3 separate regions of the Homo sapiens genome follow, and all the other regions are linked to region 1. The links come from fine-mapping of genetic effects on gene expression. A gene starts in region 1. Each other region holds a variant in brackets. All regions are shown on one strand. Distances are from middle to middle. Region 1 holds the start of NAMPT (nicotinamide phosphoribosyltransferase). Region 2 has its middle 30 kb from the start of NAMPT-AS1. Region 3 has its middle 60 kb from the start of NAMPT-AS1.

Evidence for each region. PIP is the estimated chance that this variant, and not a neighbour inherited with it, causes the effect. A credible set is the group of variants that fine-mapping cannot tell apart.
Region 2: its variant is the best candidate, but not a certain one, in a credible set for the expression of NAMPT in whole blood (TOPMed, PIP 0.64).
Region 3: its variant is the best candidate, but not a certain one, in a credible set for the expression of NAMPT in whole blood (TOPMed, PIP 0.55).

What each region holds. Positions count from the first base shown.
Region 1 is chr7:106,281,860-106,290,047 of GRCh38, reverse strand. It overlaps NAMPT (nicotinamide phosphoribosyltransferase), which reads left to right and starts at 5,065. Exons shown (of 11, transcript NM_005746.3): 1 at 5,065-5,220. The coding sequence starts at 5,164. It overlaps NAMPT-AS1 (NAMPT antisense RNA 1), which reads right to left and starts at 4,802. Exons shown (of 1, transcript NR_186647.1): 1 at 3,722-4,802. RefSeq lists silencers at 4,566-5,105, 5,376-5,735.
Region 2 is chr7:106,311,066-106,319,253 of GRCh38, reverse strand. It overlaps the pseudogene LARP1BP2. Among named protein-coding and RNA genes, the nearest start is that of NAMPT-AS1, 30 kb to the right of the region's middle. RefSeq lists a silencer at 5,681-5,820. The variant G/A (reference allele first, on the strand shown) is at 4,950.
Region 3 is chr7:106,341,349-106,349,536 of GRCh38, reverse strand. No RefSeq gene overlaps it. Among named protein-coding and RNA genes, the nearest start is that of NAMPT-AS1, 60 kb to the right of the region's middle. RefSeq lists an enhancer at 2,201-3,400. The variant G/T (reference allele first, on the strand shown) is at 3,868.

The DNA of each region.
Region 1 (8,188 bases):
CAATAGCAGGATTTTTCAGACTCCTTTTGGCATCTGAAAACATTCAGCAACTTCAAGAACTGTCCTTCCTTGGAGGAGGGCAAAAATGGTGCTCATCCCCTATCACGTAAAGCAACATGGTAACAACACAAGGTAAGAATGGAAACAGAGGAAACAAAATGGGAGAAGAGGGGAAAATATTTAAAATGATTACAAGAAAATCAGTCTTTTTTAGTTCAGTTTTATTAAGATCTAATTTATATGCTATTCACCAACTTTAAGCTTAGAATTCAGTGAATTTTGACAAATGTATACAGTCGTATAACCACATATATCATTCTCATCACCCCAAGAAGTTTCCTCAGACCTGCTTGCAGTCATTCTGCTTCTCATAATCCCAGTCTCTGACAACCACTGATCTGCTCTCTTTCATTATAACTTTGCCCTTTCCAGAATTTCAAATAAATGGAATCAGACATATAGCCTTTCATGTTCAGCTTCCTCAAGAAAACCAGTCTTATATGGAGGATGTGAAAACAGCATATAGGTTAGGGAAAGGTAAGAAAAAGAAATAGAAAGTTCACCAGTCTGAGTGCCCACCTCCTTCAGCTTCATCCTAAGTAATAATACCCCTCCCACAAAAAATCAGGTTTTATGTGCTAGTTACATTTTTAAATACTCATTAGAGGCCAAAGGCAGTGGCTTATGCCTGTAATCCTAGCATTTTGGGAGGCCAAGGTGGGCAGATCACTTGAGGTCAAGAGTTCAAGACCAGCCTGGCCAGCATGGTGAAACCCCTTCTCTACTAAAAATATAAAAGTTAGCCAAGCATAGTGGTACATGCCTGTAGTCCCAGCTACTCAAGAGACTGAGGCACGAGAATCACTTGAACCTGAGAAGTAGAGGTTGCAGTGAGCTGAGATCGGACCACAGCACTCCAGCCTGGGTGATAGAGCGAGACTCCATCTCAAAAAACAAACAAAACAAAACTCATTTAAGATAAGTACATAATTATTAAAGACAAAAACATGTATCTTAGTACCATTGATAGTTATTTCATGTACATCAATGATAAGCAGACCTCACTTAGGAAAACACTGATTTCAAAGCTCTTGACATTCCTATATACTTCAAACGGTCTTATTCTCTCAGTCATTGATATGGGCTAGCAACTCTTAAATTTGGGCCATTAGCAAAATTTGTAAGTAATGATGACATTGGAATCCCCACATGTGGCATCATAATGTGCATGTTTACCTTACTTTTAAAGGTGAATTTAAACCTTTTATTTTTGTTTATCTTTATTTCCCATTGAATTTGGTTGGAATTAGAAAAATGTATGCTTGAATATAATGGAAAACAAAAACACAACTAATAGAGACGGGAAAATCGAGACTTGCCATGCAGCAAACATAGATTGCGATAGACGTCCTGTGTGAAATTTGAAGACAGTTTCAAGTCAGATAGATGATCGACTCAGCATTGCCGGTTAGGAGAGTGCAGCACAGTCAGACCACAAAGACACCATAGAAAGGGCATAATTACATTTTGCAATGGAATGTCTGTGGATAGTCTATATATGTGCACTCATTCTTACTGTGTGTGGATGACAGTTGCTCTATCATTTTTGTACATTTAGACGAGGACTCCATAGTTTCCTGTGCCTCTCTTTGTGTGATTGTACAGGCTTAGCCGACTGAGTCATTACAGAGTGTAACACTGATAAATCATTGAATCTGTGAAGACCGTGTCTTTCTGTGGATGAGGCCTTTCCCTAGGAAATTAAAACTCTGGGAGGTTCCCAAAGGGCCTTGGAAGTTTGAATAAGAAAAAAAGTCCAAGTTTAATTTTTAAAAGCTCTCTTTTTCACATTTGTCTTTGTGACAACTGTTGCTAATTGGCGAGTCTAGAGGAGATTATAAAGGGAGATGGATAAGACCATCGTCAGGGGTTGCAGGTAGGTGAGTTCCATACCTACTTCACCAGTGTTTTTTACTGAGGTCAAATCAGGTCAGATTGGAGTATCTGAGGCAACTTTGAAATATAAAGGTGCACCCGAGGCTGTCTGCAAGGGTGTGTGGCAACAGGAGTGGCACAGATACACTCACTTTGCCTGAACAAATATATGAGCCCTAGGTCTTTCATAGCACTCTGAGGGAGGGAGACAAGGAGCTGCATGCCCAATTGGCAGTGCCTGATTGCTATTTGGTAGGATGGTATAATAATCCAGGGCTTTGAATCAAGTGAGGGGGCCCATTTGAGTCTATGTGTTATTATTTGTCATGTTGTTGTGACCTATGAAAAACAGTTTCTCAGGTCCTCTACATGCTACAACCTCCCCGGGCTCAGGCAATCCTCCCACGTCAGTCTCCTTTCAGAGAAGCTGGGACTACAGGCACATGCCACCACGTCCAGCTAATTTTTGTATTTTTTGTAGAGATGGGTTTTCACCATGTTGCCCAGGCTGGTCTCAAAATCCTGGGCTCAAGTGATCAGCCCGCCTCAGCCTCCCAAAGTGCTGGGATTACAGGTGTGAGCCACCACGTCCAACCTTAATGCTAGCTGTTAAACTGTCTTTCAGGGGAGGCCATTTTAAAATGAAATCTTGGCTCTGTTTTCAGTGATAATTTCATAGTTCTAAACCCCAATTAATTCTGAATTGCTCCAGCTTAAGCATGTAGTTACATAGAGAATGTGCCTATTTCTATCTCAGGCAAATGGTGATTGTCCTATTGGTAACATGACTTCATTGTCATTTTTTTTCTCTGGAGACTACTGTGAGGATTCACATTACTAATACTTGTGCAGGCCTCACTCCTTAATTTAACAAGCAATGTCAATACAATATTTTTTCTTTGCACAGATATAAGACCTTTTTATTTTAAAACTGCAAATTCAACTCAAAGATTGCAAGATCAAATTTTGCATCTTAAAAAAATACTACCATAAACAAAGCCCACATTATAATCAGAATCCTACTTTCTTTTCTGCATAAAGCAGCATAGAACAACGGTCATTTATAGATACATGAATTCCAGGAAGCTAAACAAATAAGAATTTGTACTATAAGTAAAGTAGGTTATATAAATTTTAAATGAAGGAAAAAACACCAAATTAAGGACAAAAATTATCTTTTTCCTTCTTTGAATTGCACTCCTTGAAATAATATAAAAAAACTCCCAAAATCAAATATTAAAAAATAATTTGTTTAGGCCGGGCGCGGTGGCTCACGTCTGTAATCCCAGCACTTTGGGAGGCCGAGGCGGGAGGATCACGAGGTCAGGAGATCGAGACCATCCTGGCTAAGACGGTGAAACCCCATCTCTACTAAAAATACAAAAAATTAGCCGGGCGTGGTGGCGGGCGCCTGTAGTCCCAGCTGCTTGGGAGACTGAGGCAGGAGGATGGCGTGAACCAGGGAGGCGGAGCTTGCAGTGAGCCGAGATCCAGCCACTGCACTCCAGCCTGGGCGACAGAGCGAGACTCCGTCTCAAAATAGAAATAATAATTTGTTTAAATGCGTTTACAAATAATTTTCCCCGGTAAAACACAGGGAAGATCAACCAATAAATACATAAGCCCTCTTGTTTCAAACCTCGTTGCTGAAAATAATTGTAAGTGTACTAGTATTTACTACATTGGTGAGTGCCTGGTGATACCTTCCACTTCCATGATCTTTGCCCTGTATTGTATCTACGTGTAGATGAGGTGATTGTCAAAAATATATACTGACTTCAAGACATAGTGTTGACTGAGGTTGTCTTTATTAGAAGTCTCAGCCATGCCTCCAGTTTCGAGATGAATCTCAATTCACAAGTTCCACTATGAATCTCAATTCACAAGTTCCACTACCACCACCACCATCACTGCCCCCAGATAGAATGAGACTTCTAATAACTTGAAAGACAAGTCTATAAATATCCTGTAATCGTTTTCACTGTATCACTTTTTCCTGGCTACTTTTATCCGATAAAAACCTCAATTTATTTTTAAGCTATTAAACATGCGGACAAAGGGAATCTTAGTTTTATGCAAAAACGCAACCACGCATGAGAACTGCGCAAGTCTTTCTTGGAATGGTCTGTATTTGGGTGAAGTCATCAGACGTCATTACACTTCTTTATTTTGGGGTTGCCAACTCGTTTCCCAGGATTTAAAGACTATAACGATGATAAAAGTCAGTGTCGCACCCTGTCAAAGGCTTGGCCCGTTGCCTTTTCCTTCCCGGCAATACTCGGTTCAATTAGGTCTTGTCCCCTCATTATCTGTGAGGACTGAATTCCACCCCCGCTTTTCAACGCAGGCTCTTTGCTCGGGAAAAGTCAAACCATCTCTCAAAGGATCAAAGAGCTCAGCCATAGACAGAGCCGCCGGAGGAAAGCGGAGTCGCTGCATCAGATGAAAGGGGCCCCTCAGCCTCACTCCTCACCGCAGCTCCTGGGATCTTAAAGACAGGGTCAGGAGGATCAGGAGGGACAAGAGGGATGGAGGCGAAAGGCTGGATCCTTAATCCAGGCCGGAGACAAAGGTGAGTAACTGCGCGTGGTGGACGGGAAGATGGGCAGTAGGAGGCTCCTCGCCCCCTAGCCGGGTGGCGTGACTTCAGGAGGACCCAGAAAACCGGCCAGGACTGGGTAGGACGGAAGGTCCCAGGCGGGGCGGGCGAACCGGCTCCTCGTGGCACTGGCAAAGCTGGGAACGCCCCCTCCAGGCCCCGCCCTCCCGCGCCCGTGCCGGGAACTCGAACTTAGGTAAGCGCCCGGGTCACGCGCCGGGGCTGCCCCGCTGCCTCCAGCTTCCCAGAGCTGGCGTCTGGGAGGAAGAGCGCGTGCATCACGTCCTCCTCCCCGCCCCGCCTCCGCGCACTGCGCAGCGCGCTGCCGCGCCCCGCCCTTTCTCGGCCCCCGGAGGGTGACGGGGTGAAGGCGGGGGAACCGAGGTGGGGAGTCCGCCAGAGCTCCCAGACTGCGAGCACGCGAGCCGCCGCAGCCGTCACCCGCGCCGCGTCACGGCTCCCGGGCCCGCCCTCCTCTGACCCCTCCCCTCTCTCCGTTTCCCCCTCTCCCCCTCCTCCGCCGACCGAGCAGTGACTTAAGCAACGGAGCGCGGTGAAGCTCATTTTTCTCCTTCCTCGCAGCCGCGCCAGGGAGCTCGCGGCGCGCGGCCCCTGTCCTCCGGCCCGAGATGAATCCTGCGGCAGAAGCCGAGTTCAACATCCTCCTGGCCACCGACTCCTACAAGGTAAAGCTCGGGGCCCGGGCAGATGAGGAGGAGCGGGGCGCGCTGGGGACGAGCGCGCGGCAGGGGGGCGGGGGCGGCTGGGGCTGGGGTTGGGGCTGGGGCTGGGGCTAGGGTCGCGGCGCGGGGAGGCCCGGGGGAGGCGCGGGCGGCGGCGGCTGGGGCAGGTGAGGAGGCGCCGCAGTGGGCAGGAGGTGGCTTGAGGAGGATGGAGGGCTGGGCGGTGGAGGCGGGGCCTGGGGGCGCGCGGCGGCGGCGGCGCGGCGGGGGGCTGAGGCGGGCCCCAGCGGACTCCCGGGCGCCGGTGCTCGGGGCTCGGGGCTCGGGGCTTGGGCGTCGCCGGCGAGCGCATGCCCTTCCCTGAAGCGCGGCCTCTTGGCCTGGAGCTGGGACCAGTTAGGTAACGGCCCCGGGGACCCGCAGTGGAGAGTGAGCGGGGCTTTCCCCCGGGCCAGCCCGGCGCGCTCGCCCCTGGCTGGGCAGGTAAGTCTCCCGGGGCGCGAGGTGGGAGAAGTCCTGGCGCGGGCGCCGGAGCAGCCGCGGTCCTCTGCGGCTCCGGCGCGGAGGACACTCGCCTGGCCCCGGTAGCCGTAGTGGATTCCCCTGTCCCACTCCGCCGGGCTCCGTTTCAAACTCCTTGGCACCTAGTGATTGCTCGTGCTCCTTATCCCTGGGTGTAGAGGCCGCTCTGCTCTTATCTGCTTTAGGGTCATTACAGGATTTCTGTGAAAAGGAAAATGAAACACGAGGATTTAAAGGAACTGTAGTTTTAACCCTAGAGAACATGTGGAGAGGGAAATGGCACAGCGTTGCGTTCACATGCCCATTGAACACTTGTGTGGGTAGCTGCCACATTCAGTTGATATGAAGCACGCAGTAGTGAAGGGAAGAGGTAAAGTAAATTTTACTTGAGCAGCATAGTGGTTTGGAATACAGTGGTAAAACATAGTACTCTCATGTTTTTGTTTTGATTCTTTTTTTTTCCTTTGTTTTTAGCCCTCCTCCGATATTCCGAGAAAGTATTTTAGAGAATTCCATTTTACTTAAGTTTTGTCTGTTTTTTTCCAATCAGCTTAAAATGCTGTTTATGATATTTAGATAGGTTCTTGAAATCGAGCCAAGATCCATCAACAAGTTGTCTTTTAGATGCAAGTTTAAAGTATTGCAAAATCCGAACACTATCAAGTATGATTCTTGAATATTGTCAAGTATACGTGATAATACCTCAAGTATGGTCCTTTACTTGGTCCTAAAACCTCCTCTTGTGTTCTCTTGGTTCAATCATAGTGTTTTCAAAATTTTAAATAGTGATTTTAGAATAGCCTCATTGATAGTTTTGTAGAATTTTTTTCTTAACTAAATCTAAAATAACTGTCAGATTTTTTTTTTACATGTTAGCCAAATGTAAAGGGAGGTTGAATAGTCTAAATTTTAAAAACAGAAGAATGCAACTTCCTTTAGTTTGCAGTTCCTCTAACCATTATACATAAGGAATGTAAAATTACTTTAACATCAGTTTTCTGGGGTGCTTTTAGTTAGAATAGTGAATTATCTTAAAGGTTTCTAATCTAGTGAGCCATACTTAATTGCACTATTAGAATTTGCACCTATTTAATAAATTTTACTTCTGTCAACTTTCAAGTCAGACTGGTGTGTTTTATATCCTTTATAATATGAAACTTCAGAATATTTTCATCTTAGATTTTTCATTTTTTCCCCAAAAGTCACCTCTAGAGGGTTCAATCAAGTCGATATGTTTTATACCAGTGGCTTACCGCAGTATGCTAAAATAGATTGTGTATTCCACAGTCACATTTAAGTCTTAGGTTTCATTTCCCTTATGTTTTTAGGGGTCCTTATAACCTATTTTACATTTTTGTCTTTTTATCTTAGGAAAAAGGACAAAAATGATAATCTTGAGGTTAGAAGTAATGAAACTTATTTAGAAATTACACGAGAATGTTACATATCCTTATCAGTGCTTACAAACTATTGGCCAAAGTTGGGAACTCTAGTAGTTTCAGATGTGTTGATGAAGAGAGCAAAATATTGTTGATTTCTTCTTTCTAAAACTGAAGAAAGAATAATTGATTGCCTAAGCACTACGAAAGTTATTTTGCAAGTAGATGGTATGGTAGCAAGCACATGACAATGGGAGTTTTGTTTTGTCTTGTATCCTGTCAAGAGAGTCCAGAACTATTTGGACCAAAGGAGCATTTGAAGTATATACATTCACTTCTGTAAACTCATACTTTATTGTATATAGTAAGGAATTAAGGACACTGACGACTGTGGTTCCTCTATTTTCATCGTGGTTCTTGTTAGAAGTAAGGACACCGTTTAAACCGCATTATCCATTAGTTATGAAATGTGCTGTCCGGTGTAGGTTGCTTCTCAAAGGGTCATCTGTAAGCTGGTTATCTAGAATTCAGCATATTTTTAACCATTCATTTAATAAATGTTGGTGACCTATTGGGTATTATAAAAGAAGACAAAGATAAGTAGTATTTTGAAATCCAGGAGGGACAGAAGTTGATTTTATAGAAGTTTCAAAGAGCTGTGAAATTTATATATGGTGATTAGGAATTCAAGGCAGCTTTTTTTCAAAAAAAAAGAAAATTTTGCTTCCTCTAATGGCCAAGTAACAAATTTTTGTTGCTTGTCTTTCACTGCTTCTGAGCGGATGCTTCGGTATTGTCACGGTGGCTCCTGAGTCAACCTGAGCCTCATGAGTGGGGTACTGTTGCAGCTTGTACCCCAGAGACTGCCTATGCATTCATAAAGATATATGTGACATTGTACATATATTTCAATTTTTCCATTATGTTTTGTTATATAGGAAAAACTTGAGCACCATAAATAAAATATATAAATCATGAATATACTTCATAGGGAGATTAATTTAGGTCATTAATAATTGAGCTGGTGTTCTCGTTGTGAGTTAATGAAATCTGGTTTAAAGGTGTGGCAA
Region 2 (8,188 bases), 29 kb before region 1:
CCACTCAACTCCCTCTTTGATCTCTCCTCACTAGCATTTCCCTGGCTTGGCCAGATAATTTTTTCCAGTTCACACAGTCTCCTTAGAGTCTCTCAGCCCATTTGGGTCTCCAGCTCTATATCATATTTTTGCAGGATAGTCTCATGACAAAATTTTTATTTAATCTTTACAAATACCTCATAGTGTGTGGCCAATTGTATTTTCAAAAATGGCTATGCCAGTATATCCCAATCCATAAATTCCTGTAGTATGATGTTGACACTCTTCCATCAAAACGTGGGGTCCACGTTTGCTCCTCTCCAATCTGGGTGGGCCTGGGACTATGGTGTATGTGATTCTCCATGACTTCTGAGGGCAAGACAAAAAAGATGATAGAGCTTCTCCCCTGCTCTCCTCCCTTGGGACACGTGCCCTGGGGGCCCTCAGCTGACATGTAGGAAATCCAGCCACTCTGAAGCTGCCATACTGGAGAGAGCACATGGGCAGACTATGTAGAGAGAGACCCATGGAGCCCCAACTTCTCCAGTCCCAGCTGTTTGAGCTGTCCCAGCCCAGGCACCAGATGTAAGGGAGTAAACCTCCAGATGAGTCCAGCCCCAGCTTCCAGCCACAACTAACGCTGAATAGAGCAGAAATGAGCCACTCCAATCCCCACCCAGATTGCTGATTTGTGAGCAAAATAGATGTGTTCTTGTGTTAAACCATGAAGTTTTGGGTCCATTTGCTACAAGCCATAGTAACTGGAACAGCAAGTAATGTTACCTTTGGATTCATTTGGGTACAGGTAATTTCCAATACTTATTTAAGCTTGAAAGCAAAAGTCTCGGCTTATAACTGAAAGTCCAGGGCTCATGCTGTTGTGCCTTTAACAAGGGCCATAATGATGTCCCTAGGACCCAGGACCTTTGCATGTTTCCGCTCTCTCACAACAGCACTGGCCACACGCTCAGACTTCATGAGTTGGGCAGGAAGTCCGAGAACTCCAGACATTTGTCCTGTCAGATTCGAGCTCACCCACAGCAGCAGAGGGAAGTCCACTTTCACAATCAAACAAAGGCCATAAGATTAATCCTACTGGCTACATTTGATTTGGCCCCATCCCTAAACCTCGGAATGTGCTGATCATCCAGGCTACAGGCACCTACATGGAAAAGCAGGAAGGAATTCAAGTTCACCAAAGTACAGGAACTGACAGAAGGAGAAAGATGTTTCTCCCAAGGATATTTCTAGATTCTGGTACAAAAGAAGGATAAAAGGACACTAGCCAGACAAAAAACATACAAACAAAATACCCACATATCCCCAGACTATGTATGGGAAACAGTTCAACAGTTTTCCTCAACCATTGCCCTACCATTAGGTAAATAACTTTGTCATTTATTGCCCCACAATAAACTGAGTTAGTATTTGAACACGTGTTTGATGCAAAAGTTTATTTTCTTCACCCCAAACCACATGGAATAGCATTTCTACTCTTTACTTCTGATTTCTTATAATTCATACAGCATGCTGAGGATAGAAACTTTATGTGAAACCAGAGAGAAGAGGTAGTTTTCAATTCTACTCTGTTTAATGTACCTTTTTCCTTAAGCTTTCTCCAGCATTCTAGTTTAATATATATGAATATTTTGGCATCAGCCTGCTGTCACTAGTATTGGCTTAATATTCTACACAGAAAAATGTCTTCAGAACATTTTTATGGGACTTATTCTATATAAACATAACAGCAATTTAAAAAATTTTTGTAGCAGCTTTATTAAGATACGATTCAAATATGATATAATTTATCCATTTAAAGTATTCAATTCCGTGGGGTTCTTAGTGTATAAGCAGGGCTGTGTAACCATCAACATAATCAATTTTGAACATTTTCATCACCACAAAAAAGAAACCTTAGCATTGATTCCCCATTTCCTCTCTGCCTGCTCCCCACCACCAGCTCTATGTCTCTATGGCTTGCCTTATTCTGGGCATTTCATATAAATGGAATCATACAATAAGTTGTCCTTTGTGAGTGGCTTCTTTCACTTAGCATATGGTTTTCATGTTGTAGTATGTATCAGTACTTCATTTGTTTTTATTGCCAAATAATATTCCATTACATGGATATACCACATTTTAATTATCCATTCATCAGTTGGTATACATTGGAGTTCTTTCCACTTTCACAATGCTGCTAAGAATATTCATGTACAAGTTTTTGTTTAGACACATATTTTCATTTCTCTTGGGTATATACCTATGATAAGAGGTGCTGGATAACTATGTTTAGCCTTCTGAGGAACTGCCAGACTGTTTTCCATTTTACATTCCCACCACCAGGTTATGAGTGTTTCAATTTCTTTCCATCCTTGCCAAAACTTGTTAGTATCTGTCATTTTGATTATAGCTATGCCAGCCAGTGCTAGGTAGTGTGGTATCTCATTGTGGTTTCTATTTGTACTCCCCTGGTGGCTAATGATGCCAAACATCTTTTCATGTGCTATTGTTCACTTGTAAATCTCCTTTTGAGAAATATCTATTCAGATTATTTGCCCATTTTTAAATTGAGTTATTTGTCTTTTTATTATTGAGTTGTAAAAGTTGTTTATGCATTTAATTCCCTTATCAGACATGACTTGCAAATATTTTCTCGCATTCTTGGGTTGCCTTTTCACTTTCTTGATGGTGTCTTTTGAAGTACGAAAGTTTTTAATTTGTATTTTCTTTGAGACAGGGTCTCTCTCTGTCACCCAGGCTGGAGCGCAGCAGCATGATAATAGCTCACTGCAGCCTTGACCACGTGGGCTCAATTGATCCTCCCACCTCAGCCTCCTGAGTACCTGGGACTACAGGTACACACCACTACACCCAGCTAATTTTTAAATTTTTTTGTAGAGATGAGGTTTCTCCATGTTGCCCAGGCTTGTCTTGAACTCCTGGGCTCAAGTGATCCCCCTGCCTCGGAAAGTGTTGGAATTACAGGCATGAGCCACCACCTGGCTGAAAATTTTAAATTTTTATGAAATCTAATCCATTTTTTTCTTTTGTCATTTGTGCTTTTGGTGTCATAAATGTTTTAACCAAGTTCAAAAAGACTTATGCCTATGTTTTCTTCTAAGAGTATTATAGTTTTAGGCTCTTTGAGTTAGGTGTTTCATCCACTTTGAATTAATTTTTGTATATTGTGTGTGGTAAGAATCCAATTTCATTCTTTTGTTTGTGGCTATCCAGTTGTCCCAGCACCATTTGTTGAAAAGACTACAGTCTTCTGTCCCATTAAATAGTCTTAGCATCCTTGTAAAAAATCAGTTGACCACATGGTTTGTTTCTGGACTCTTAATTCTGTTCCACTGACCTATATGTCTGTTTTTATGCCAGTACCACACTGTCTTGATAACTTTAACTTTATAGTAAGTTTTAAAATCAGGAGGTACGAGTCTTTCAACTTCATTCATTTTTTTCAAGATTATTTTGGCTATTCTGGTTCCCTTGGATTTCCATGTGAATTTTAGATCAGCGTGTCGATTTCTTTATGGCTGTATGTTTGTTTTCATCCTCTTCCATCCACAAGTCTTATTCATAATGACATAGGCCATTTTTGCCTGAAACCTGTGGTTGCCTGTTTGATCTTATCCAGGATGTTTTCTCAGGTAAAATGATAGCTGAGTTCAAATCAACATCTTGTTGAAATTCAGCTCATCAATTTCATAATCTGAATCATTACGAGACCAATCAGTAAATGTGTTTCTTTTTCTTCTATTTGTTGCGTCTGTTCATCAAATAAAAAATCAAGTTCTTCCTGTTCTTCTGGAGGATATAGTTGACTTGATACATCATCAGATACTGGTGTTGAGTCCTTCAATTTCACTGGAAATGGACAATGTCTCTTTTTTACTTTTATCCAAGGCTCTAGTCCAAGTCAGAGAAACTGGTAGACACATCTCTAGGCATTGCCTGAAGATTATTTGTTTCAGTATATTTCTTTGGACGCAGTGGACTTCCAATTCTTGGAGAATTTAGGGCAGACTCTGTATGCAAACCAAAGGCTATGTGAACTCAGAACAACATTTTGTGTGTGTGTTTTTCACTTGAAATTTAAGTAAGTATGCAGAAATGCAGTATGAAGAATTACTATTGATTGTATTCAGTTAATGCAAAGTAATTGTAATTTTTGCCATTTTTTTAATAACAAAAACCGCAATTACATTTGCACCAACTTAATAATAGAATGAATCTTGGCTCAACCCTACATGAATTTCCTGGTAGCAAATGGAAAAGAGGCATATGATCCCTTTCATGCACCACTCACATCTTGCCCCCTAAAGCACTCCGCTCACTGCTTGCTAAACTGATGGCTCATTCATCAACTGGCAGAATCCTGCCTTAAACACATGTATCTATGTCTTACCCAGGAAGTAGGAGCTTCTGGAGTAGAGGATCCCAATCAGTGGTAGGCTGGAAGAGAGAAGGTCTCAGCAGGAAAATCACATGGAGCTTTGTCAAAAAAACCTTGTGTCTGCTGTTCACCCCCTATACCACCCTATTCCCAGGATATCAGAGTAGATGTAAAAGAAATGGGAAGATCAGACATATGGGAAAATTCTCCAGGTCAATCTGATGCCCATTATTCTATAATCACCCAGGAAGAAACAAGGGTACCATAAGCCAATAGAAGCCAAGCCTCCATTCTTGGGAGAAGAGGAGATTGACAGAAAGGGGATCAGGTTTAAAATTAACACTTTCTTTAATTTGAAGCATACAGAAAACGAGAAGCAGAAATGGGCTATTCAGTCTTGCCAACCAAATGGGCAGAAGCAATTAAAGGACAAGGAGAGTGGAATAAAAATGTTTTTTAAAAAGACAAACTTCTATCAAAGACAATTGATAACAACAAAAAAAAAATAAGAAAAGGAGAGAGAGAAAGGAGAAAGTTAAGAGCTTGTTCAGGGAAGTTAGAGTCAGGATAC[G/A]GAAACTTACATAAGAGACTACTGACTCTAAGGTGGAAGTACAGACACAGGACCAGAAAGAACCCTTGGAGAATGACTTCAGTTTTATTTTTGAGGAAGTGAACAAAGATTTGAGAAAAACCAGAAAGAAGAATGGAGAAGTAAGTTTAAGGAACTGTATAAGAGAAAAGCTGGAGAAAGAGAAATTGAAAGAAAAGAACAGCATAAAATGTACATAATAAAGGCACTTTCAATGTAAGACATCCTATTTCCGTGTATACTAGGCCAACCTATCTTTATTGGGGGTTGAACAAAGTTAGGTTTATAAACATTAGAGCTGTGCCTCACAGAGAGAATAAGAATCGAATATAAAAAGCATTCAATTAATTAATCACTAAAGACCCTGTTCAGAATTTCAAGAATCTACTGGTTAAACTGTTTTAAATGGGGGGCTGTAAGGGATTTGTCAATATTTCCCTAAAGGAAGTGACTAAACAGGAAGAAAATACAACGTGGACTAAAGGTACTTCTGAATTTTTGTGTGCACTTTGTGTACTTTCAACTCTGATAAAATCATGCTTACTGTGTTTTCAATTGTTTTATTAGGCACTATTTGTAAAACCTGAAATTTTTCTTTTCCAGCTCCACAGATGTTGTATAATTTAATTAACCAACATTAAATGGTTTTCATGACATACTTTGTTATTTACATCATTATTTTTCTTTCTTATTGACATTCCTGTGAACCAGCTCATCACAGTATTGAGTGGACCACATGGAAACCACAGAGACACTAGTGTAGAGCGGCTGGAGTCAATGGTTCCAGTTTCAAACCCCACTCCACTGCTTGCTAGACATGTAATTCAGCACAAGGTATCTAATCTCTCTGTTCTTGTGAAGTAATCCCCACCTCAAAGGATTGGTATAAAGAGTAAATTATGAAATTTTTGTAAAATGTTTGTCACAATGCCTAGTACATAGAAAATGCCCAATAAACAGCGGTTGTTGCTCTTTTTATTATTTAGAATAACTTGTCCTAAAAACATAAAATGCCCGTGTTCAAGAGAAAAGAAAGGAAATAAACAGTAGCATTAGGAAGAAGGAACAGACTTAGTCTCTAAATTTTTAAGTGGGGATGGTATAAACACCAGGCAAAGTGACTGTGCATGTTAAATGGAACAGCATATGTAAACTACCCAGCACAATGCTTGGAACATGACTGGTCGACATACTTAATGAATGTCTGTTTCCTTCTCCCACCCTATCTTTTTTCAAATCTTCTTAAAACTTGAATTGCATAGCACTGCAAGGCTGTGGCAACTATTCATCTATTTGGGCTTTTTCAAGAATATTTCCATGTAAACCACTTAGAAGATGCACAGAGGGGACCTTACACTACCAATTAAGAACTTTTTTAAAAATCTAATTTAAATTTATGTTGTTTATATAAACACAAACTCTATCTTGGTATGAACAGCAAATTAGGTAATTTTTGTAAAATGAAAACTTTCTAGCAATAATTTTTAAAATGGCTTTATCCTTAAAATTTCTAACCCTTGGCTGGTGTTCCCAAGAAGGAAGTATAGTAATTCAGTATTTATTATGAAATCAAGTTCTTCATCCTTACCATATTCGGAACCATGTTTTTACTTTAATGCTTACACATAGCCTTGTAAATATTTAATTTTGCACATACCTAACTCTGTAAATACATTTCTTTCCAAGTAGTTTCAGATGACACTTTTACCACTAACATTTTATACAATTTCCTAGAAACTCCTGCATTAATTCCACCTATTTTTATCAGCTTCTCAAAATATATTTATTTACTTCTATAATTTCCTACAAATACAGAATTTTGAGCTGAAGAGGAACACTGACATCATTTGGTTCAAATCTCTCATTTTACGAAAAGGAAATAAATTCACTAACTTCCAGTTATTGTAACCAAGTTATGCCCTAAGAATGGACAGAACGAATAGCCAGTTACAAGGTAAGATTTTAGCCTCAGGCTCATACCAGCTGATGACGAATCTCTCCCCTGCCATTGTATCACAGTGCCTAAACCTCCCACCCTTAGCTATTATATCCTATTAAGGCATTAAAGTTCCCCATCAAAACTTGAACTCTAATCAGCCATTGATACTGATGCATTGATTTAAAGAAAAAATGTACAAATCATACAGCAACCTATTAGAAAGAGATATAGAATAGGAGTTTTGAAGGATGCGGAAGGAACCAGGAAAAGTTTGATTTATTCAGCCAACATTTGTAGAATTTATATAGCCTGCCATGCACTGTACTGAGATACCAAAAGGAAGCATGGTCTCACCTTCAAGGCACATCTAACTAGAAAGCATTCTTGTAAAATAACCCTGTGCAATGAGATGAGGACTACTATAGAGGCATGTACAGGTTAATGAGGGTGCAGAGGGTAGAGATTTGTCCCATCGTATAAGGCAGAAAAAGAACCGAAAGGGCGATATTTAAGCTTGGCCCAGAGGATATGTGGCATTTATCGAGTGCCAGTATATGGACTGTGAAGCCAGATTGAGTGGGTTTGAAACCTACCACCTCTTACTGACTTTAAACAAGTATGTAGCCTTTCTGTACCTCAATTTTATCACCTGTAAAATTAGGATAATAGAATCTACCTTGTATAACTACCAAGTGTAAGTTACATATAACTTGTATAAGTAATATATAAATTAATAAATGTAAAGCACTGAGAAAATGCTAGCTATTATTGTGGTTTCACCTATTGGTAAAATAGGATTAAGGGTCATAGACTGGGCCACAACACCAGAGTGGTGCTGGGTAGAAATGGGCTCTTTAATTGCTTTAAATTGAGAAAGAGAATGGTGCTCTATCAGCAACCAGTAGTGGAGTCTGGGCACACCCACACTGGGCTAAGAAGGGAGAATGTATGACAGCCATAACCATACCAAAGTCCCACAGGCAAATTGTATGCATTTAATGTGAGGACTTATCCTTACTAGAATGGACCTTCAGATCAAATATAAATAATTGAAAAAAACATCCTTTGGGTAGCATTGGTATGTTTCCAAACAAAAAGACCTTGGAAGCTTGATATGGGGGAGAAGCCAGAAAGAAAGGGGAAAATGACGCAGAATGGGGAGCCTGGAAATCTGTGTTGCCTACTTCACAACTGAGCCACTAATTTAAATGTGCACTTGAAAGCAGGGTTAGAAGAAGCTGATGTGTGCAGCGTGGCTACCCCTGGGCTAGGGGTGAGGCAG
Region 3 (8,188 bases), 59 kb before region 1:
TCCACGCAGGGAGGCATCCAGGTTCTGCCTGGCTTCTCCTCCCTACACCATGCCTGAAAACTCTTGTCAAGGCAGTAAGCTGGGGCAATGATAGGCTATTTCATTTGTTTACCATCTCACTGTATTTTATTGTCTGATACCCAATGCCTTAATATTCATATTTTTTTCTTATTTTTTAGTTGTTTCAGGCAAGAGGATATATTCAGTCCTTGTTGCTCCATCTTGAAATAATTGGCTATCCTTATTTGTATTATTATTTTAGTAATTAATTTATGAGTGCAATATAATCCTTAACTTTACCATTTACATTTAATAATGTACTACTCAAGTAAATTAGAAAAACCTGGAAGCCATTGGTTCCATAAGCCCTTCATGATTCATGTTATAATTATTATATCTGTTACATCTATGTTTGTTATAAATCATAGAAGATACTGTTATAGTTTCTCTTTGAAGAGTTATGTGAGTCACATAAAGAAGTTAAGAGGAAAAATCAAAGACAAAAATTATTTTGTATTTATAATTTTTTATGTTATTTCTTCTTTTTATGGAGATACTAATATCATCTGGTATCATTTACCTTTAGCCTGAGGAACTTCCTTGGCCATTTCTTTTAGTGCAGGTCTGCTTGTAATGAATACTTCTAGGCTTCTTTCATCAGAAAATATCTTTATTTTGCCTTTGTTCTTGAAGAATATTTTATCTGGATATAGAATCTGGGTTGATGTTTTTTTTTTTTCTTTCAGCACCTTAAAGATATTTTACCACTCAGTTCTCCGTGGTTTATGATGAAAACTCAGCTGTTAATTAAATAATCGTTCTATTATATATGGTGTTTTCTGTTGATAGTCTGAAGACTTTTCTCAATCTTTGGCTTTAAACAGTTGGACCATGATGTACCTTGATGTGGGATTGCTTATGTTTCTTTTACCTGATGTCCTTTGAGCATATTTATTTGTAAATTTCTGTCTTATCAAATTTGGGAGATTTGGGGGGCCATTTTTAATCATCTTTTTTCTATTTTTTTAATCTCTTCTCCTAGGACTCCAATTACACATATATTGGAACATTTAATATTTTTGTACCAAGTCCCTGCACTCTGTAGGTTTTTTTCCAATTTTTTTTCTCCCTGTTTGTCACATGGAACAATTACTATTTATCTATTTTTCACTTCACTTACTCCTGCCTCTGTCACTTCCACTCAGCTGTTCTCTTCAGTGATTGTTTTAGATCAGATATTACATTTTTTAGTCCTGGAATTTCAATTTAGTTTTGTCTGCTTTTCTCTGTTGAATTTTCAATTTTTCTTTATTTATTGAGCTCATATTTTGTTTTGTTTCATTGAATATCATTATAATAGCTGTTTAAAAATCCTTGTCTGTTGTATCTAACATCTTATCTGAGGGTCTCAATTGATCTTCTTTTCTTGATACATTCCATTTTTCTTGGTTCTTTTTTGTTGGGAAATTTTGGATTTACCCTGGACTTTATGAATATCAAGCTGTGCAGATTATTGATTTTATTGCTTCTCTAACAAGTGGTTTTCTTTGGCTTATGCAACTTTGTTTCTTGCATCTTAACTCTAGTCTCAGTTCAGATCATTTGTCTTTAGTTGAACTGCCTTTGGTCTGTTTCATGCATATGTCATTCAGGAATCAGTCAGAGAAATCATTAGACAAAATTTTGGGGATTTGCTCTCTGTTTCTTTCTCTTTGGGAATTCTCCAACTCTCTCCATCAGCCATGGATTCCCCTACCAGAGAGATGGTGGGTTTTCTACTGATGCTTCTACCACACTGCCACTGTGCACACTCAGTGGGTTGCACTGAGACCAAGGCTAGAAGCCACAGACACAGGGCACTTACTTCATACTGCTTCCTCTTCCAAATATTTATTCTTTGCCAATGTCTTTCTGCTTCTGTTCTCTCTCTAGTGCCTTCAAGTAGTTGCTTTTTGCTTTATGTTTAGGTTTTATAGTTGTTTTACTGCAAGGGAATTTTTCACAAGGGTCTTATTCCATCATCACTTGAATCGGAAGTCCCTCTCAGTTACCTTTTAAATTCAAGAATCTTGTCACTCAAAGTCAAAACATTTTCTCCAGGGCCTTGCAGAGACTTGTTCACATAATGAAAAATGTCCGCTGAGAAGGCAACTTTTTGTAGCCATTGTTCATCAAAACACTTAACGAAACTTGCCCAGTATGATATTGAAAGTACTTTTGAATTTCATCTTTTAGCTCAAACACCCTGTTGAAAATGCTTCCTCTGCTGAGCCACCAAATTTCTGTGTATAGCAGGATATTTCTGTGGCCTTTATCGACACCTTTTCAGTTTTAAAAGTATTCTCAAGTTAGCCTTTATATAACAAAGATAGCCATTTTGTAATATTATCTAAAACTTTCATTTCATCTCCAAGAATGTTTGACATTCTCTTTGAAGAAGCCAATGTGTTGTGAAAATGTGAGAAACTTTTTTCATTTAATAAGATGCAAAAGCTCTCATAGAACCAAATTTGACAGAGCACTATCAGTGTTCATGTCAATGTAGTTCTTAGACCTTTTGTTTATAGATATGAAGGCCAAACATTAATTATATCTTGGCCTTTCCTTGTTATGGGCCACTCTTTGTTTTCTTGAATTTCACAATTACTTGCAAATCTTACAAATGCTAAGTATGACATTTATTGGTGAAATCCCCTGACTCATCAACCTAGAAAAGGAAGCTGCGGTTTTTCAGGGTATGTCACAAAACCTCTTCAAAGTTGTGTGACGTGTCATCAATACTTCACCATATGACACTGTTTGAGGCTGTGGAACCTTTTCAGTTTCTTGTAGTGCATCTTTTCCTAGCCTTTGATTCACAGTAATTTTACATGATCACATTGTTAGCCTTACCAACTGTGTGACTTTTCCTGTTTAAGACAGTAAGTTCTGCTACTAAATAACTTGCTCCCTGGTCCTTTTCACTGAATGTACCTGTTTCTTGTTTGTTTGTGTGTTTGTGTGTTTTTAACAAGAGTTACTGTTTGTTTTAAGATTCTAATAGCTGCTTAAAGTAATCAGCATCTTTACTTCTCGAATACCTATGACTTATATTTAAGGGTTTTTGTTTTGTTTGGGTTTTCTTTTTTTTTTTTTATTGGAGCCATTCCCACATCTCTAAGTTGTTTGACATAGCAGGGATTGGCAAATGACAGCCCATGGGCCGAACCTCACCAGAGGCCTGCTTTGGTACAGCCCTCAGGGCTAAGATTGGCTTTTACATTTTTAAAGCATTTAAACAAGCAGACAAAGACAAAGAAGAATATGTGACAGAGACTACATGTGATCTGAAAAACCTAAAATATTTGCCACCTGCCTCTTTACAGAAAAATCTTGCTGGCCTCCTCACATGGATGATTCTCAATAAAATAAGAAAATTTGGATAATCAGCCTATAGAAGCTCCTTGGTAAGGGTCTTTCATCATAAAGATGGACTTTTTCTGTGTCCTTTGTTCCAATCACACAGGAAAATGACTCAGAAGGTTATAATTCATCATCACTACCCTTATCAGGGTTATCCCCAGGCCTAAAATTTTCCTCTTCCATCTCACATCTCACCTTCAAAAATTACCACATTGGGTTATCAAACATGTTTATAAAATACAAACATGAGTTAAGTGTAAAACATAAGAGCATAGTAAAATTTAAAAATCCCCCCAAACTCATCAATCACTGGAGAAATCACTTTTAGTCTTTTTCAACCTATGTTTTGCCATGTTTGTAACCACAACAAAACTGGGGGCAGGAGGTGGGGCAGGGTGCAGCTGAGCCTTTAGAATGAAAATTAAATTTCCCCTCATTTTTAGTTATACTAGCAAAGCTTGTTTG[G/T]TCCTGTGAGTCATCCTGTAGTGCATAAGGGGAGTTTAGGGGAAATAGTTAGAGAAGGAAAAACTCATGTCATCCATTTACCACCCCTCTCGTCTGTGCAATATAGCACTCATCAGTTACCAGTAACCTCCCATAGCTTGCATCATAAACCAAACTGGGCACAAACAAATACAATCCTATTGCACACTGCCACAATGGGGCTGAAAGACCCCGAATGAAATTGCTGACATGTCTGCTTAGCCACTATCTATCCTCAAAGTATGCAAACTTCGAAAGTTGATGTCTAGGTTTTAAATCAAAATCTCTTACAAACCCCTAGTGATGACATATTGAACTTTAAGGTTTTGTGGAAACCAAATTGAGAAACATTGGACCAGAGTCTCTGTATTCCAAAAGATTATCTTTCATTTGTATAATCTAAAACTCCCTTAAGTCTTATTCTTCTCCAAAACTCAAAGATCTACCCTTCTTCAAAGATAAATTTAATAATCACTGGCAGAATTAAAACAGATTGTTCTCACTCTCAGCCATCAATATTTTGGAAAACATCAAGTGCGGAAGTAAGCATCGTGACTCTGTTACAGTAACAGCTCAAATATCCGGAAGAATGTGGTAAGTCTATAAACACGTTACCACTAAAGTGCTCTCAGAGTCCATGGGGAAGTGAGATCACTAGATAGAGGAAATCAGGAAGGGTGTCATAAGTGAGGTAGCACTTACCACAGATCTCAGGGAAGGGAAGCACTTCTATGGTCAACATGACAGGAAAACATTTAGAATGCAGAGAATACAATTTCTAAAAGCATGGAGGCAGAAATTTATGGAGCAGGTTAGAACAATAGTATGTGGTCCCATTTGGCTAAAGTATAGGTGACATGTAGCGGGGAAGGGAAAGGAATATTGTATTAATAAAGTGCCATGAAGCCTGAATGACAGCCGGAAGGCCTACAATGCTAAGATAAGGAGTTTGATTAAGTCGTGAGAGCTATTGGAGGTTTCTGAGCAGTAAGATGACATAACCTCATGAAAAGTATGAGATATGATTAATATAAACCCATCCCATATTGTGCCCCTTTGTAAGCTACCTGTACGGAAGAATGTGAATTGTTTCTGGCAGGATTTTTGTTGAATATATACCTTTTCTTTCATTTTCTCCAGTGAGCAGCAACACACCCTTGTAAGACAGCTGGTAGGGTTAGGAGTATTGCCTATGTCAGTGGAACGAGTTCCTCTGTCTCAGAACAGATGGAAAGCATCACAGAAGTAGGAACAGAATGAGGCCCACAGATGGCAGAGTGGTCAGGATTTGTCAAATTCTCATTAATGTATCAAACCCCCACATGGAAAAGCATAGATCCTTGTATAATCTTTGTGTGGTACTTCTGTCTGAAGAAACCCTATAAAAGCAAAAAATTACTCTCCCATGACATTACAGAAGGGAGCTGTTTGTAAAAGCGTTGGTTTCTTCAGAGGTTGGGGTCCACTGATGCCTGGCTCTAGCTTTCTCCTGCCAAGCTGCCTAATTTTGCAATTCCAGCTCAGGCTCAAATAAAACCATGCTCCAGGGTTGCCATCTTGAAGGAAGGAGACTTCATTCTGGAATCTTTGTGATGACATAGGTAAAGCACTAGAAAGGGTAGTAGATCCATGAAGAGACCAGAAGGATAAGTACAAGAAGACAGATATGCTTTACAAATAAGGACTCTCCAGGATGAGATACAGACTGTGAGCAGGCAGATAGAACATTACATAAACGTGAAGGAGATCATGGGATGGCCACCAACTCCTAAAGTGTTAGGATGAAGTGGACAGCTCTGAAAGCTTAAAAACTGCTAAAATTGATTAATTTTAAAAACTGTTGGTTTTACATTCTGTATGACTCAATATATGTAGGAATCTTGAGAAATATCAAGAAAACACAATGAAGAGATTAAGAGTAGAGAGGTTAGGAGCCACTGTGTCCTTGCCAAACAGGCAGAGTAGGAAAACAGGAAAATATTGAGGGAGGAATATAGGCATATACTACCCTGTCACAGTCAGGCTCTAGGATGCCTGCATGATCTTCACCTCTTACTATTCGTGATCATCTGAAGTCTCCTCCTACATTGAATCAGAGGTGGTCTGTGCAACCACTTGATGGAGAAGACCATGTTTAACTTCTGAGGATAGGTCATAAAAGTCACCACAGCTGTTGCTTTGTTCTGCTGGACCACTCTTTCTGGGAAGCCAGCTACCATACTGGAGGGAAGCTCAAGCAGCCCATTGGAGAAGAACCCATGAGAAATAGTGAAAGCCTCCCACCAATAGCAAGCACCAACTTGCCAGCCATGTGACTAAGCCAATTTTGAAGCCACTCCACCTCCAATCGAGCTTGCAAATTGTTACCACTGGAGGGTGTCCAGATTCTTAGTGTCTTGAACAAAGAATTGGACAAAATACACAAACAAAGCAAGGAAACAATGAAGCAACAAAAGCAGAGATTTTTTTAAAATGAAAGTACACTCCACAGGGTGGGAGCAGGAGCAAGCATAGGGTCTCAACAGTGCGATTACAGAATTTTCTGGGGCTTAAATACCCTCTAGAGATTTTCACTGGTTACTTGGTGTAAACCCTATGTAAATGAAGAGGATGAATTCAAGTTACAAAGTCATTTACTAGGTGTATGCCCTATGTAAATGAAGAGGATATTTCCTGTCATCACTGAAGTGTTTTCCTTTGATTTAGTTCTAATAAGTCCTTAGGTTCCCTGCCTCCAGGCCCTATTCTCCTGTCTTATTTCCCCCCAAAAGATGTGATCCCCATAAATCTTTATGGGAGGCAGAGGGACTGACGGTCTTTCTTCTGTAACTGCTTCATGCTGGCTCAGGGTGTAGTCCCTACCCATTGTGGATCACAGAACTCTTGTCCTGCTCTGTCTAATGGAGACAGGGTAGCTCCTTAATGACCAGGGGTGGTGTCTTCACCTGGAACTGACTGGAACCTTTGTCACATGATCATCTGAAGCTTGATGGTCTCTAGGAGAGAGGAAATGAATTTGGTTAAAAGATTTAATGGGAACTTCAGGAGGTAGATACTTATGCTCTCAGGAATGTTTGTTATAGAGATTTACAGGAGAAAAACAAAACCTCTTCTCTTCTAGGATCCATGTGTAATATGGTTTGACTGTGTCCCCACCCAAATCACATCTTGAATTCCCATGTGTTGTGGGAAGGACCCAGTGGGAGGTAATTGAATCATGGGGGCAGGTCTTTGTTGTGCTCTTCTTGTGATAGTAAGTCTCATGAAATCTGATAGTTTTATAAGGGGGAGTTTCCCTGCACAAGCTCTCACTTTGCCTGCTGCCATCCATGTAAGACATGACTTGCTCCTCCTTGCCTTCCACTATGACTGTGAGCCCTCCCCAGCCACGTGGAACTGTAAGTCCATTAAACCTCTCCGTCTTTTGTAAATTGCCCAATCTTGAGTATGTCTTTATCAGCAGTGTAAGAACAGACTAATATAGTAAATTGGTACCAGGAGTGGGGCACTGCTGAAAAGATACGTGAAGATGTGGAAGCAACTTTGGAACTGTGTAACAGGCAGAGGTTGAAACAGTTTGGAGGGCTCAGGAAAAGACAGGAAAATGTGGGAAAGTTTGGAACTTCCTAGAGACTTGTTGAATGACCTTGCCCATAATGCTGATAGTGATATGGACAAAAAAGCTCAGGTTGAGGTGGTTTCAGATGGAAATTAGGAACTTGTTGGGAACTGGAGGAAAGGTGACTCTAGCTATGTTTTAGCAAATAGACTGGTGGCATTTTGCCCCTGCTGTAGAGATTGGTGGAACTTTGAACTTCAGAGAGATGATTTAGAGTATCTGGCAGAAGAAATTTCTAAGCAACAAAGCATTCAAGAGGTCACTTGGGTGCTGTTAAATGCATTAAGTTTTATAAGGGAAGCAGAGCATAAGAGTTAAGAAAATTTGCAGCCTGAAAATGCAATAGACAAGAAAATCCAATTTCTCTGAGAAATTCAAGCCGGCTGCAGAAATTTGCATAAGTAACAAGGAGCCGAATGTTAATCCTCAAGACCCTGGGGAAAATGTCTCCAGGGCATGTCAGAGGTCTTCACAGCAGCCCCTCCCATCACAGGCATGGAGACCTAGGAGTAAAAAATCATTTCATGGGCCAAGCCCAGTGTCCCTGTGCTGTGTGCATCCTGGGGACTTGGTGCCCTGCATCCCAGCCACTCCAGCCATGGCTGAAAGGGGCCAACATAGAGCTCAGGCCATGGCTGCAGAAGGCATGCTTGCATGCAGCCATCTTGCTTGTTGAGCCTATAA